Homo sapiens: one gene and its partner. The protein of the gene in region 1 interacts with the protein of each later gene in a pairwise test. Each region holds a gene or a part of one and is shown in the gene's direction. Other genes may lie near its edges.

Region 1 (6,663 bases):
TCAGGAGGTGTAGTATCTGTTATATTAGGTTCTGTGCTACTATCCCTATAATGCCCAGGATGGAGGAGGGGGAAGGCAGGCCTTTGAAAGGAGAACTCTAATAGCAATATAACAAGATATTTTGTCCCTTCTAGTTGTATTAAACTAGTATGTCGAGTTCTGTAAAATTTAGGTGACTAACTCTTCTTTACCATATATTTCCACATGTAAATTAAACAGAAAAAAAATTCCCAAGGGAGTTAGAAAAAAAAAAAGAAAAACATGGGCCGGTCACAATGGCTCACGCCTATAATCTCAGCATTTTGGGAGACCAAGGTGGGTGGATCATGAGGTCAGGAGTTTGAGACTAGCCTGGCCAACGGGGTGAAAACCCATCTCTATAAAAATACAAAAATTAGCCAGGCACAGTAGTGGGCACCTGTAATCCCAGCCACTCGGGAGGCTGAGGCAGGAGAATGGCTTGAACCTGGGAGGCGGAGGTTGCAGTGAGCTGAGATCGCACCACTGCACTCCAGCCTGAGCGGCAGAGCAAGACCAAGACTCCGTCTCAAAAAAACAAAAACAAAAACATGAATACGAGAAAATATATTTGCTCCTTACTGTTTTTCCATTCCTAAAGCATTGTCAATGTAATACTCATGTACCCACCCCCTGTACCTGCACACAACACTCGGTTATATAGAATGCTATCTCTACCCTCTGTAACTCTAGGCAAAATGGACAGATTATTAAAAGAGTATCATGCCAAGGAGAATTTAGTGACATGTTAAAATGTCTTAACAAACCCACTGGTTGGGAAAGTTTCTGTGGATGATTTAAGTCGTTCATTTACTGAGTTCATACTAAGAGTTTCTGCTAATTGCTCTCACTATTCTAGGAGACCCTTATTCAAACCCCCCTTTGTAGGCCTGAAGTCCCCTAATAATTACTGATTTATTGTGCTTTACAATTACTGATTTTTCCTCACTCAAGAAACTAGTGGACTTAGAAAAGCATGCACCTCTCTTAAACGATAGTCTACAAGTTACAATAACACTTAAGACTTCTGAAGTTTCAATGATAAATCTCTGTCCAAAATAGTAACACTTAAGGCAGGTACAGTTGCTCATGCCTGTAATCCCAGCACTTTGGGAAGCCGAGGCGGGAAGATCACTTGAGGCCAGGAATTTGTGACAAACCTAGGCAACATAACAAGACCTCATTTCTACCAAAAAAAAAAAATTTTTTTTTAATTAGCTGGGCATGGTGGCATGTGCCTATAGTCCCAGTTACCCAGGAGGCTGAGGTAAGAGGATTGCTTGAGCACAGGAGTCAAGGCTGCAGTGAGCCATGATGGCAGCACTGCACTCCAGCCTGGATGACAGAACAAGACCCTGTCTCAAAAAAAAAAAAAAAAAAAAGTAACACTCCTGTTACAAGTGAAGAACAGAGAGGGACCTGCATATTGAACCCACTACAGTAAGTTTTCACTGGATCTCAGAACTGCCAATCATTCTCCCAAAGGAGGTGACAAAAAGGCATCAAAACATTTCTGCTGTTTTGGCACAGACCTAGCTCTTTTGTGTCTGCTCTTTTAACACAAGCCTTCCCCTTCCTTCCAAAAGCAGAAAGTCACAATGACTCTAGTATTTTAAAATGAAGAACCCACGTGCGGAGGAGTGAAGCCAATATAGTAATATCTGAATGCCATCTAAAAATGTTTTGAGTGGTAAATAAAGGGGTCATAAAGAATAGCATCTTAACCTGAAATGCCTATGTCCACTACAGGAAAAATTCATGGGAGAAAAGAGGGCAACACATGAAACATGCCTGCACTGGCTCTCATGAGCCTCCCTGTAGATACTTGTGAGAGCCTCCCCAGGTATATCCATCTAGTGGAGTACATGAAACAATAACCATGCCATGACATTCAAATACATACACATCAAAATGTAGTATTGACTCATGGGTCAATTATTTTTATTTTGCTGCTTAAAACTTTTGTTTTCCACATTTTCCTCAAAGTGCATGTTTTTGTTTTTGTTTTTCTTAACTAGAAAAAATATCCCTTACTAACACACTGGGGAATTACAAAGGGGGGGGGGGGAAAGAACAATATCCCTTCTTCAAAAAGTCTTAGTGATTGACCCTGGTAAATAAGTTCCTTTATCTATTAAGTTCTAATATTAAAATGAGGTAGAAATCTTAATGAAACTAACTTTATACAATATTGCTGTCATACTGTGTCATGTTGAATTTTATATTGTTTCTTGTTGATGGATTTTCCCACACTTTTGAAATCTTTATACCTGGTTATATGTAGCTTTTTCATTTACAGTTGATAAAATATATTATCAGTCTGTAAATTCCCATTTATCATGTGTCTTAGCTTTTTTCCCTAGACCTAGGATGGCACCTGGCACACAGTAGGTACTTATATTCATATAGGTTCTGAAATTAATGAATGGTTTTTATATACTGAAGTAACTGATTTAAAACACCAGTTCCAGGAATACATCCTGTTATACACCTAAGGGCTACTTCTCAAAGGAAAGTGGAAATGTCCATCAACTGATTACTTCTTCCGTCTCATTACACAGGGGGCACAGTTTCTAACAGAGCTTGCACCTCTCTGTAAGATTTACTGCTCAGATGGTGAAGAATATACTGTGTCTAGGTGAGTAACTTTTTAGCCACCATTTAGGAGACCAAAGGGAGGTAATTTTTTTTCTTAGAAACAATTTTTTTTAACTAAGTAAACATGCTGAAATCTTAAATTTTTTTAATAGTTGTGTTAGAGGACGTTTGATGGAAGTGAATGAAAACATCCTCCATAAGCCATCTATTCTTCAAGAAAAGGTAAAAGAGAGAGAAAAAATATGATCTCATCCACATACCTTTTATTGGTTTTTTTTTCATCGTTTGACAGTACTAAATGTTCTTTCCTTTCCAGCCATCTACTGAAGGCTACATTGCAGTTGTGTTACCCAAATTTGAAGAAAGTAAAAGCATAACAGAAGGGTTACTGACACAAAAACAATATGAAGAAGTCATGGTGAAACGCATTAATGCCACAACAGCTACGTCATGAGGATTGACATGGAACAAAAAGCAAAGTGGGATTCTTGTTACCTGGCCTAAACCATCAGGGTACTAAAGGAGAAGAACCAGTATATGTAAAGCATACCTAACAGCCAGCCATATGCAGGGGAGGCCTAGTGCTTCACTTAGTTTTCCCTCTCTGTCTTCATAATGAGCCTTGGTTCCCATTTGTCTACAGCCTGCCAGATCTGGCCTGCCCATGTACTCACACTGTTCTCTTGCATCTCTCTAACAACTGGCATGCAAGGCATGTTTTTCTGATTAAAAACAAACAAAGCTCTTTGAAGAAGATTTAGAAAATACAGAAGAGTTTTAAGTAGCCAAGTAAAAATAATTTACCCATCATCCCATAATCCAGAAGTAAATACATTTGACCCTTGAGCAACATAGGTTTGAACTGCAAGGGTCCACTTATGCATGGACTATTTTCAACTATAAACGAGTCAAAAATATATCATTAACCAAACACGAAACCCACTTATAGAGCAGGTTCATATACTCAGGTTCCAAAGGGCCAACTGCAGGACTTGAGTTCTCACGTATGGATTTGGGTATATGTGGAAGTTCCTGGAACCAATCCCCTATGTAAACCAAGGGATAACTACTACATTTTAACCTACTTCTGTTTGAACATATGGTATGGTTATTGCTTTTGCCTCGTTTTCCTAACAGTTTGAAGTTTAAAAAAACCTAACCCACCTTTCTTACCCAGTCTTCTATAATGTGCCTACCAAAAAGCCTAGTCCTAGCCCATCTGCCTCAACTCCTCTCCCTTTTAGGTTGTAGGGAAGAGGCCGGAGTGTAGAGTATATTATATCTTCTGTCCCCCTTATGCCAACAAGATGGCCTTCCCCTCTGAAACAAAGTAAAACTGCAACACTGTGACTTCTTAAATGAGGGATATGTGAAAAGGCTATGAAAAATACAAAGGCTTTCCTAGGAAATGTGTTATAATGCAGCGGGAAGCTAATTCTTGAAATATGCACATTATAGTTACTCAGTCTCACATACTCTAGTTACTGGCAAAGAAGTTACTGAGAATATGTCATTCAAAGGCATAGGGGCCTTTGAATGGAACAAATGCTTTCACATCATTTAAAGTAAAAAAAAACCTCCAACAACTGTGAATTTATAGTTTAAGAGTGATTTACACTGAATTTCAAATAAAAGGACTATAAAACGTGTTATTTTTCTGTAAGGGCTATAACATACATGTCAATATCACTGTTTTTAAATAAAATATACTTTTATACAGAAGAAATCATTCGATGTATTAATTCCATTGGTTATCTATCCTCTTATGCTGTTGAAGTCATAAGTTACCCCTTCCCAACCCCCACTTGCTCTTTCTTTCACTAGAGAACAGTATTTTTTCAGGTATGCAAAAATATTATCTAATGAAAGTACAAGTGGGGGTTGGAATTTTTAAGTTTTAATTATTTACAAAATAATACTTACTTATTTTGTAAATAAAACAACATTTTGGTTCATAGGAAAAACTTGTAATCTGAGTGCCAGCATGACTATCCCCCTAAATATACCCCCCAGACATGATACATGTAGTAAGTGGATAAACACCTCCACGATGGTGCTATTAGCTGAAAATATAAACAAACCAGCAGATCCTCACTTTAAGTAGCACAATGACTCTTGAAGGCGTCATAAAACTATGACAGTAAACGTAGTAAAAGAATTGTGTATAACATTTTACATGTAACATTACCTCACATCATTCTCCCATTATTTCTATTGTAATTTAAAAGAGTACTTTGGTTTCAGAGAATAAAAATCATGCTTAATGATTTTGACTGTTTAAGGAAAGATTTTAAAAAGGTTATTAACAGAGCTGAGTGCATCACATTTTCTCCCGAAGGACTACAGTGAAAATTTTCCTCAATAAAATATTGACTAGCTGTGGTCAATTGGCATTACTGTGGTTCTTCCGGATCTTTTGTGAATACTGATTGTGGTGGCTGACCCAGATAAAGATCATCAGATAAGCTTATATTATCTACTGCCATTTGATAACTGACATACCCTGTTAGATTTCAAAATGAATGTCAAAGCATTAAGATACAAATACTACGACTGAAGTCTAACACAAAGTTGGCCATACTATATTATAAGGAGAAAACCTATAAACCAGATCCTTCAATCATGACCCCACCCACAAAAACAAGAAAAGCTTTAAACTCCTAAATTAAAAAGACTAAAGAAAGATGTTTTTTGTTTTGTTTTATAGTGAACATTTCAAATGTGTGATATTCAGAATTTAAATAGATTCTTGGCTTCCTTATTCTGTCTTTGTCTTCCATTCCATCAATCAATACTGAGAAAGTTCAAAATATCTTTTAAGTCTATAAGATAGGCTTAGAATCCCAGCTAATATTCAGGGCAGACTGGCCAGCTATGCTAGAACTAGAACCAAAAACCCATCTCATACTCTCCAGGAGTTGTTCCAGGATTCTGTGGAGTTCCATTACCTTACTTTTGGGAGTAGGTGAGGGACATACACAGCACAGCAGACCCACCCTTGCTGTACAAAATGCTTATTAGGGAACAAACTTGCTGCTGGCATGGACAATCTGGGACAGGGTCATCAAGGGGATTTTTGTCACACTTGGTAAACAGAGGGATTGAAGAGTCCACAGGTTTAAGGAAAACCCTGCATTCACCCAGACTACTGTATGTTTGCTGCTGACATTAGTGATCTAGATGATAAAGAAAACAGTTAAGGTAAAATATGCCAAAGCTAAGCACATATTCAAAATAGCTTCTTGTGGATTAAATTGTCCTTGAGACAGTTGGGATATTTGGTTTGACTTTTAAAGAACATTAGTGCAATGTTCTATTTTAAAAATCACACTACAATTAGAATCTAGCAATTACCAAGACATTTATTAGTTGTCAAAAAGCTTTACAATCAGTTTCATGATCAGAAAATAGAGCAAAATTTCAATATTGTTTTCTTTATAAAATTGATGAATTTCTGAAAAGATAAAGGATCATTTGATTTTTAAAAATGTCAGCTTCATCACATGATGTTCCAGAGATCTGACCCCAAAAGCTTCTCAAGTTTTACTATCCATAGTGTCCTTATTTGTAACTGAGACCCATCCGTTATTTTCCATCTGAAGCTGGAAAGAGTTAAGACAATTAGTATCTGGTTTCACTCTGAAAAAAAAATTACAAAATTAAGTAGTAACTATTTTCTTTTAAACCATTTTTTAAAGTATGAGTCTAAAATAGAAAAACTACCTCACCTTCTTCAGCAGTTTATAACAAAGTGAAAGAAGTTGGACTAAGAGAGCCATCATGGATCTTGTCTTCGTAATACACTTGTCAACCTACAATGACAAAAAGCATGCAAATGATATTCTAAAAGTAGTACTTAAAAGACCTTACCATTTATTTAGTTTTAACATGATAAAATTTCTCCATATGGAAATCTAAGGGATCTTGAAAGAGATATGGATTTAGGCACATGAGCTGACTCAAAGCCCCAGGACACAGGTGCAGGGGTAGCTGCCTAGATTTCATGTCTATCTCATGGAACCCCAGCAGAAAGAGTGGGTGGAAAAT
Region 2 (8,141 bases), on another chromosome or scaffold:
TCTCTCCTCATCATTGCTACGCAGAAGGGGATTCTTTAAAGAAAATGAGAGAAAATGGATAATAATTGTTGGGTAGTTGTGAGTTTACCAAAAAACACAGTTACTAGATAATTATATGTCTTATGCTTTAGTCAAAACATTTGGCAAAGGTAGAGTGAGTAAAACGTTCAGAAAGTGAGGACATAATATCAGCATATTATAATATAGATTTTTCATCATCTGGAAACAAATTTATTTCTCTATTCAAGTTCCATTAATTATTTTCTACTAAATGCTGGTTTGTAGAACAAAACATAATGCTGCATTTTTACCAAATTCTGGCAAAAACAAATCTTTTAGATAAATATTGTCAAAGCTGCAGTACAGTCCTATGTAAGGAATGTTAATCTTAAAAACAAATTCTAGAATTAGTTATTGATTTCAAAATTTGAAATACAATTTTGAGAGAAATACAAAGTTGCCCCTTTAAGAAAGAGAGAGAGAATTAACTTAGTTCTTTTGCTAACCATGTTAGCAAACTAGACGGTAGGTCTTTGGTAATCCTTCCGAAGAGCCATCATTAAGACTAAACTAATAGTCTCATTATTCCTTCCACCCTATTGCCTCTGGGTCATGTTACAAGGAATGCCATCATTGAGATCACTCTCTGTGTGGCTCTGTGGAAACCTACCATCTGGCAGGTGACAGTTGCCATTATTAAAAAAATGGGACTAACAAGATAATAACATAGAAATTGTGGCAAAGTTGTTTTTTAATAAAAGCATTGAGCTATGGTTAATTTTTAAAATCCACATCCAAACCTTGGCACTTGGAGATGAGCTATAAAGAAAAAAGAAAGTAATGATTTTTGGTAAGTTTGATGTAAACACATTTCCCAGGCTCTGATGTTGGCTGCCAGGCTACTAGGGACCACATTGCCAAAGCTTATTTTTTAAGACACACAAGTCAGAGCTCAGAAGTAACCTTTCTTTTGTAACATTTCTGCTCTTATTATTATTTTTGCCTGTCAAATCTTACCAAATAGTTGGTACAGCATGCTGTCTTCATTTTTTCCTTAAACAAACCCCAGCTACATTAAAGAGTTTGTACATGGAGACTTCGGGAGAACCAAGCCAAACATTGGGTCCCTGATGAATGTGACTGCAGACATTCTGGAGCTGGATGTTGAGGTAAACCATTTTGTTGTGGAATGCACATTGGCAAATTGAATTCAACCAAAGTTATGCTCTTTGGCATTAAGCCATTTTAGTATCACCCACCTCCATAGGTATTTGAGAATGGTGAAAATCTCACAGTAACATTGTATTGAAGGGAGGGACTGTCTTCGGATTTTTTTTTTTAATATGAGGTCTCATTTATGTTCCTTGAAAATATATAGCTAATTTATTAACTGTGCTTTACATGTAGTATCAAATCTAAACCCTTAAACCAAGCACGGAAATAGTCATTTCCATACCTGTTGCGTTTTATAAAGACTTTAAAGCAGCATATTCAGAAACATGGATTCACAAGGGTAGAAAGTGAGGTGAGCCAATGGTTCTTCATAAAAGCAGTTCTATAAGGACCCCTGTGATGTGGTCCAAGTTCTCTGCTCTTACAGTCTGAATTGAAACAAGGTTAAATTCTAAAGTAATTGTAAGAATGGTTCTGTCGGGCAAGTCTCCATAAATATTTCATTTGAGTATCAATAGGTGTTGAGTCACGAGTGGTGTTTCTTCATGAAAATCTGACTAGGAATAGAGTACCTCCCCCGCTCCTCTCCCCAGAATCTTAGGACTTGGGGATTTGTACTTGGGAATAATATCAAAGTTATAGAAAGAAGTGGGCATAGTTGCCCAATGTGAAAACATCTATGGTAATCAAATGATCACTGGAGTATTACTTCCTTACCAGCAATTCTCTCAAGTGCTCTGGGATTAGATTAGCTCCTGCAGTACAGCCAGTGATCGTGCCCTCAAGGTTGCAGGGAGCCTCTTCAGTGAAACTATCATTTGGAGGAAGAAAACCTTCTGTTAAAGAAAATCTCTACTCATCATCTTTTTTTTTTTTTGAGACAGGGTCTTGCACTGTCACCCAGGCTGGAGTGCAGTGGTGCGATCACGGGTCACTGCAACCCTGACCTCTCGGGCTCAAGCGATCCCCTGCCTCAGTCTCCCGAGTAGCTGGGACCACAGGCATGAGCCACTATGCCTGGCGTTTTTTTGTTGTTGTTGTTGTTGAGATGGGGTCTCACCGTGTTGCCCAGGCTTGCATTAATCTTTTTTTACTTTAATTCTCAGAACAGTTAGGAGTGTCAAAGACTCACAGGCCAGTGTTTCTCAACACTGACTGCCCACTGGAATCACTTGTGGAGCTTTTTAAGCACTACAACTTGCCTCCCCTCCACACACACACACACACACACACACACACACAAGATTGTGATCAGTCATGTTTTATTTTCAGCTTGAGAAAACACTCATTAATTTACATTTGGGTGTTTGGTATATGGCTATATTCTGAAACAGAACAAAAATATCTTCTTGAGATTTGTAAAAGACACACACACACATAGCTATTTAGGCTTTTCTAATAAATTTTTTTTGAAGCCAGTACGTGAAGTGACTCATGGATTAATGAAAAAATTTTCAGTAAATAATTTTATGTTTTAAACTTTAAATGTCAATAAAAGCCACAGATAGATACGGTGGGTTTTTTTTTTTTTTTAACTTTCTCTTAAAGTAGATCCCCTAGCCTTTGATAGACCTGGTATGTGTTTATGTGGAGACAAATAGTCTGTTTACTGTAATTTCATTCTGACTCAAAGATCAAGGTTTTGTCCTAGAAGAACAAAATAAAGGTAAGTAGAGATAGATGAACTGGATTTTAAAGAAACAGAAATTCTACAGAACTGAAGCACAAAGATCCTTAATCCTTTTCTGGTTCCAGGTCATCTTTCATAATCATTTATTTCACATTTTGTTGCTGTGTTACAACAAGACTATAGGCTTATAGACTACTTGAATATTTGTTAAATGCAAGATGAGAGAATAAAAATGATCAGAAGAATAAAAGTTTCTGAGACTTCTGAGGGAAAATTGGTGGTCACTTGAATTTGTTTGCTACTTTTACCCATAAATACTTTTTTTTTTTTTTTTTTTTCTGAGATAGATAGGGTCTCATTCTGTCACCCAGGCTGGAGTGCTGTGGCGTGATTTCGGCTCACTGCAACCTCTGCCTCCTGGGCTCAAGCTGTTCTCCTGCCTCAGCTTCCTGAGTAGCTAGGACTACAGGCGTGTGCCACCATGCTTGGCTAAATTTTGCATTTTTAGTGGAGACGGGGTTTTGCCATGTTGGCCAGGCTGGTCTTGAACTCTTGACTTTGAGTGGTCTGCCCACCTTGATCATGTTGATCTATATAATTGATCGGCCTCCCAAAGTGCTGGGATTAAAGGTGTGAGCCACCACACCTGGCCCCATAAATACCATTTAAAAAATTTAAATGTATTCTCTTATCAGTCAAAAAGCACAGTTAATAACCAACTGAGTAGCCAAATACTGCTACTCAATTAATTCAGAAGACCTCAGGCCCAAGAATACCTAGAACAGACTTGAGGGTTAATTTATGGTATTCAATAGCTCTTTTCTTCAAATGCAGTTTCTTCTGTTGCACTATATTAAAACTATTAAATTTATACAGCATTACCAGCAAATGCTTACCACAACAGTAATATCTGTTTTAATGACTTCTTTTCTCCCTTCTAGTCTGTAGATGTTGACTGGCCACCTGCTCTGGATGACTAGCTTTCAAATTTGGAGACAAAGAGTATGGTTTTCCTGGCATGATGTGGACATCCATGGAGCACATGCCGTAAAATGGCTGTTTACCCACCATAACGGTGTCTTGAAAACTATTTGGATCATGTTGATCTATATAATTGTTAATTTGTTGTAACATCTCAGGATCTATATATGTGTATATTTTGTGTTAAATTGTTCCAAGGATGTCTTAGGATTTTTCTCATTCCCTCTTTCACCCCCACAAACCAAACTATGAATAATGAAATAATTCTCCTTAATTCTTTCATTTAGAGAGGTGCACAAACAGGACACATTCTCTGTTAACCTAAGAAGCTGTAATTTCAGCAAGATTTCCCTCCACAAGAGATATACCACCTTTAAAATCATGTTCTAATTTTTGTAAATTATCTGAATAAAAGTTATATCTAGATTTATGCAGCATAATATCCTATAATAGTCTAAGATTGCAAATGCAAATCTGACATCATTATTTTCCCCAGGAAGCCTCAAACAAGCTATTACCAATGAAGTTCTTTTGGCTGTGATTTGTCATAAATCTTAACCAAACTATGAATAATGAAATAATTCTCATTAATACTTTCATTAAGAAAGAATTTTGACAATCTAAAATTGTCAATATAGGTTTCCTGTGGAGGGAAAGTAAAACCGTAGGAGCCAAGGCATGCCATGGTAGGAGCCTTTCATAAATCTTTTAAATAAGGAGAAACAAGTGCCTTTAATAACTTCAATCCCAGGGTTAAGAATTTGAAAAATTGAGATTGCTAAACAAAGACGAACTGGTATTATTTCAGAATGCTTCAATATATTATCCAATTATAAACATTTTAATAATACCTTATTAAAGTAGATAGGATATTGTCTCCATTTTATAAATATGGAAACCAAAGACTAGAAGTTAAATGACTTATCCAAAATTGTTAGCTACTTCTATATTGAGGACTAGAACTGAAGTTTCTTGGTTTCTAGGGTCTTTCTAATAAGCCCTATTACTGAGCACCTGTTTGTGTGAAGGGGCAGCTATGGATGCCATTTAAACTCATGTAACTGATAATTAACTTTTGGAATGTAGTTACCAAATCAAAGAGCTTACCAAAAAATAGCCCAAGACTATTTAATACAATCTTATATAGTTACCATTTGTTATTAAGTTAAACCTCAGTTGGTATTATGAAGAGGAAAAACATTAAGCTAAACCTAAAAAAAATGAATGGGTCATTTAAGTTTCAGAAAGGAGCCTCATTACAATTTCAGATTTGAGTATAATTTCCATCACCCTAATTCAACTATTTGAGCTTTTTTTAAGAATACATGTGACTTGACTAGTATTAGATTACTAACCATTTCCCATCTCTATATTAAACATAAATCACAGATACCAAGATTCACTTTAGATATGAGGAAAATGGTTTTAATGGACACAAAGGAGTCAGCCACGTTGGAACCAACATAGTTTCATACCACGTTGAAACCATGTGTTTGATATGCAAATAACAGCAAATAATTTTTTCACTCTTGTCAATGCCAATGCATTGAAAGGCCCAGAAAATGAGAAAAGGATAACAAACTTTTGATAAAAAGGTAAGAATTTCTGTGTGGATGTTCCTCAGTTTCTGGGAAAATTTTGCTACAAAAGAGATTTAAATAATTTAGGAGGCAGTCTTTTGCATGGTATTTTTGGCTTACCTTTGAATCTAGTGGACCTGTAATATGTAAGAATGAAGAATGTGCTTAGCAAACTGAAATGAGAAGATTTCTATTTCTTAAATTTCTATTCCTGAGATTATATAAAATTTCACGCAAAGAGTAAGCATTAGCTTTAAATACTTCTTCCAAATGTTCCTAGAATTTTGAGACAAAGATTGTTAAAAATTAATGTATGTCTTTGTTTTAGGCAGAACTGGAAATATTAAGTAGTGAGAGTACTATAGTTTCCCTTTTGCCTACATAAAAGCATTTTAAAATTAGTTTTATGATTTCTTTGTAAGCTTTATTTAAATTCAAAGTCTTTTTCATAACACTTAAGAGAAAGAGCCCTTTGTACTTCTTAGTATCTCTTATATAGTCCCAAATATAGTCTGTGGTTTATTTTAGGAAAAACATCAACTCTGAATACCTGGAAAAGTCAAAAGAAAATAAAGTTGGTAAAATGAAAAATGTCCAAGTAAGAAAACCGGTTACATTTGCAAGTTATGTGAAGTAAATTTAGAAGTTAAATTTCCATTTTGTAAGAGAAAAACATCTTACTTGGCAAATCTTTTCTTTTGGAGCTAATTATTCTTTGATTTTTAAGTCCACATAAGAGAATGAACTTTGATATCAGCTTTTCTGATTTTTTAACAAAGGCTACCCTTGTTTATTATGAAAAATATTACTTTTATGATTCTATTTTGAATTTTTAAATTTTGAAATAATTCCAAACTTACAGGAAAAGTTAAAGTACAAAGAACCTTTTTCCCTGAACCATGGAGCCAGTGCTGTCTCATGATCTTAAAGGCTTCAGTGTGTAATTTCTACAAACAAGGACATTCTTTTACTTAACCACAACACAGTGATCAAAACCAGGAAATTAACACTGGTATATTACCATCTAACCCACAGACCCCGTTCAAGTTGCCAGTTGTCCCATCAGTGTCCTTCATAGTCAAGTGCTCACATTGCATTTTGTTACGTCTCTTTAGTCTCCACCACTCTTAAAAGAAGTTTGTCTTTCTTGACTTTAATTACTTTAACATTTTTGAACACTTCAGGTCAGTTATTTTGTAGACTGTTCCTCAATTTGGGTTTGCCTGATGTTTCCTTTTTATTAGATTCAGATTGTACCTTTTTGGCAAGAACACCACAAAAGAGAGATTGTCTTCTTGCATCTTATCAGGTGTCACACAGTTTTGATTTGTCCAGTTGCTGGCTGGGGCTTTGGTCAATTGATTAGGTATTATCACGAGGCTTCTCCACTTTTATGGTTATTCTTTTTGCCCCTTGTAGTTAATAAGTATCTTGTAGAGAGATCATCCAACTTTCACTCACTAGTTTTAGCATCCATTGAAGATGTTCACCTGAATCAATCAGTACCACAATGATTGCCAAATACAGATTTTCTAATTCCATCATTCCTTTTACATTTGTTGGTTGGCATTACCCTAAAAGGTAGAGCTTTCCCTTCTCTCCAATTTATTCATTGATTTATATCATGTGGACTTGTGGCTTATTTTATTTGAGAAGTTGTAATTTGTTCGTTTGGCCAGTGGCGACCCCTTCAAGCTGGCTTCTGTGTCCTTTGGTATGTCCCCATCATTCTTGGAGCATGTTCTTACTTTCTAATACAAAAAGACATTCCATGCTCATCTTTGTATTTCCTCTGCACTAACTCTGCAAGGTGCTTTTTCTCTAAGATCTGGTCTCTTTTAGCAGAAAATGGTATTTAGAAACCAAGATCTGGGCAGTAGGTATGCTCATTGTTTGGTGCCATTGCTGTTCCCAAGCCCTCTCATGGAACAGAGCTAGGGAACAAACATGAATGCATGTGCATGCACACACACACACACCCCACTCATACACACACACCTATACATCTCTGTATCTACACATACCGAAAGCTGTAGGAGTTTATACCAGTACTTCCAATTCCAACCTTATTCTAGTTTTCACCCTTTCCAAATTTGTAATTCTCTGACTATAAGAAATCTGGCTCCTGCTCTTTCCCTGCTGCCACTGAATTGTATAGAGGCGGAGTCTCGGGTGCATTCAAGATCCGGCTTCACTCGTAACCCACTGCCATGGCCGAGGAAGGCAGTGCTGCTGGAGGTGTAATGGACATTAATACTGTTTTACAGGAGGTGCTGAAGACCGCCCTCATCCATGATGGCCTAGCATATGAAATTTGCAAAGCTGCCAAAGCCTCAGACAAGTGCCAAGCCCATCTTTGTGTGCTGTGTGTGCTTGCATCCAACTGTGATGAGCCTATGTATGTCAAGTTGGTGGAGGCCCTTTGTGCTGAACACCAAATCAACCTAATTAAGGTTGATGACCAGAAACTAGGGGAATCGGTAGGCCTCTGTAAAACTGACAGAGAGGGGAAACCGTGTAAAGTGGTTGGTTGAAGTTGTATAGTAGTTACGAACTATGGCAAGGAGTCTCAGGCCAAGGATGTCATTGAAGAGTACTTCAAATGCAAGAAATGAACAAGTAAATCTTTGGCACACACACACACACACACACACACACAAAAGAAAGAAAAAATAACCTCAAAAATAACCAATCTATTGCTGCCTCAATTCACAGTCCCCTCCCTGCTGCCCTCAGACATTCTCCTCAGGCTCCACACTGCAGCCCAGGAAAGAAGC

What was found.
Region 2: the proteins of ABITRAM (region 1) and PUS10 interact in binary tests that used the Homo sapiens proteins (3 or more experiments, as listed by UniProt).

Annotation. Positions count from the first base shown.
Region 1 is NC_000009.12:108,936,617-108,943,279, forward strand, and holds the end of ABITRAM (protein Abitram), read left to right. Parts: intron 1-2,579; coding exon 2,580-2,656; intron 2,657-2,768; coding exon 2,769-2,838; intron 2,839-2,932; coding exon 2,933-3,070; 3' UTR 3,071-4,338; downstream 4,339-6,663. Other genes in the region: CTNNAL1 (alpha-catulin), read right to left, coding at 6,153-6,218, 6,345-6,428. UniProt on the Homo sapiens protein: Actin-binding protein that regulates actin polymerization, filopodia dynamics and increases the branching of proximal dendrites of developing neurons.
Region 2 is NC_000002.12:60,938,037-60,946,177, reverse strand, and holds the end of PUS10 (tRNA pseudouridine synthase Pus10), read left to right. Parts: intron 1-1,069; coding exon 1,070-1,169; intron 1,170-3,744; coding exon 3,745-3,783; 3' UTR 3,784-5,955; downstream 5,956-8,141. UniProt on the Homo sapiens protein: Protein with different functions depending on its subcellular location: involved in miRNA processing in the nucleus and acts as a tRNA pseudouridylate synthase in the cytoplasm.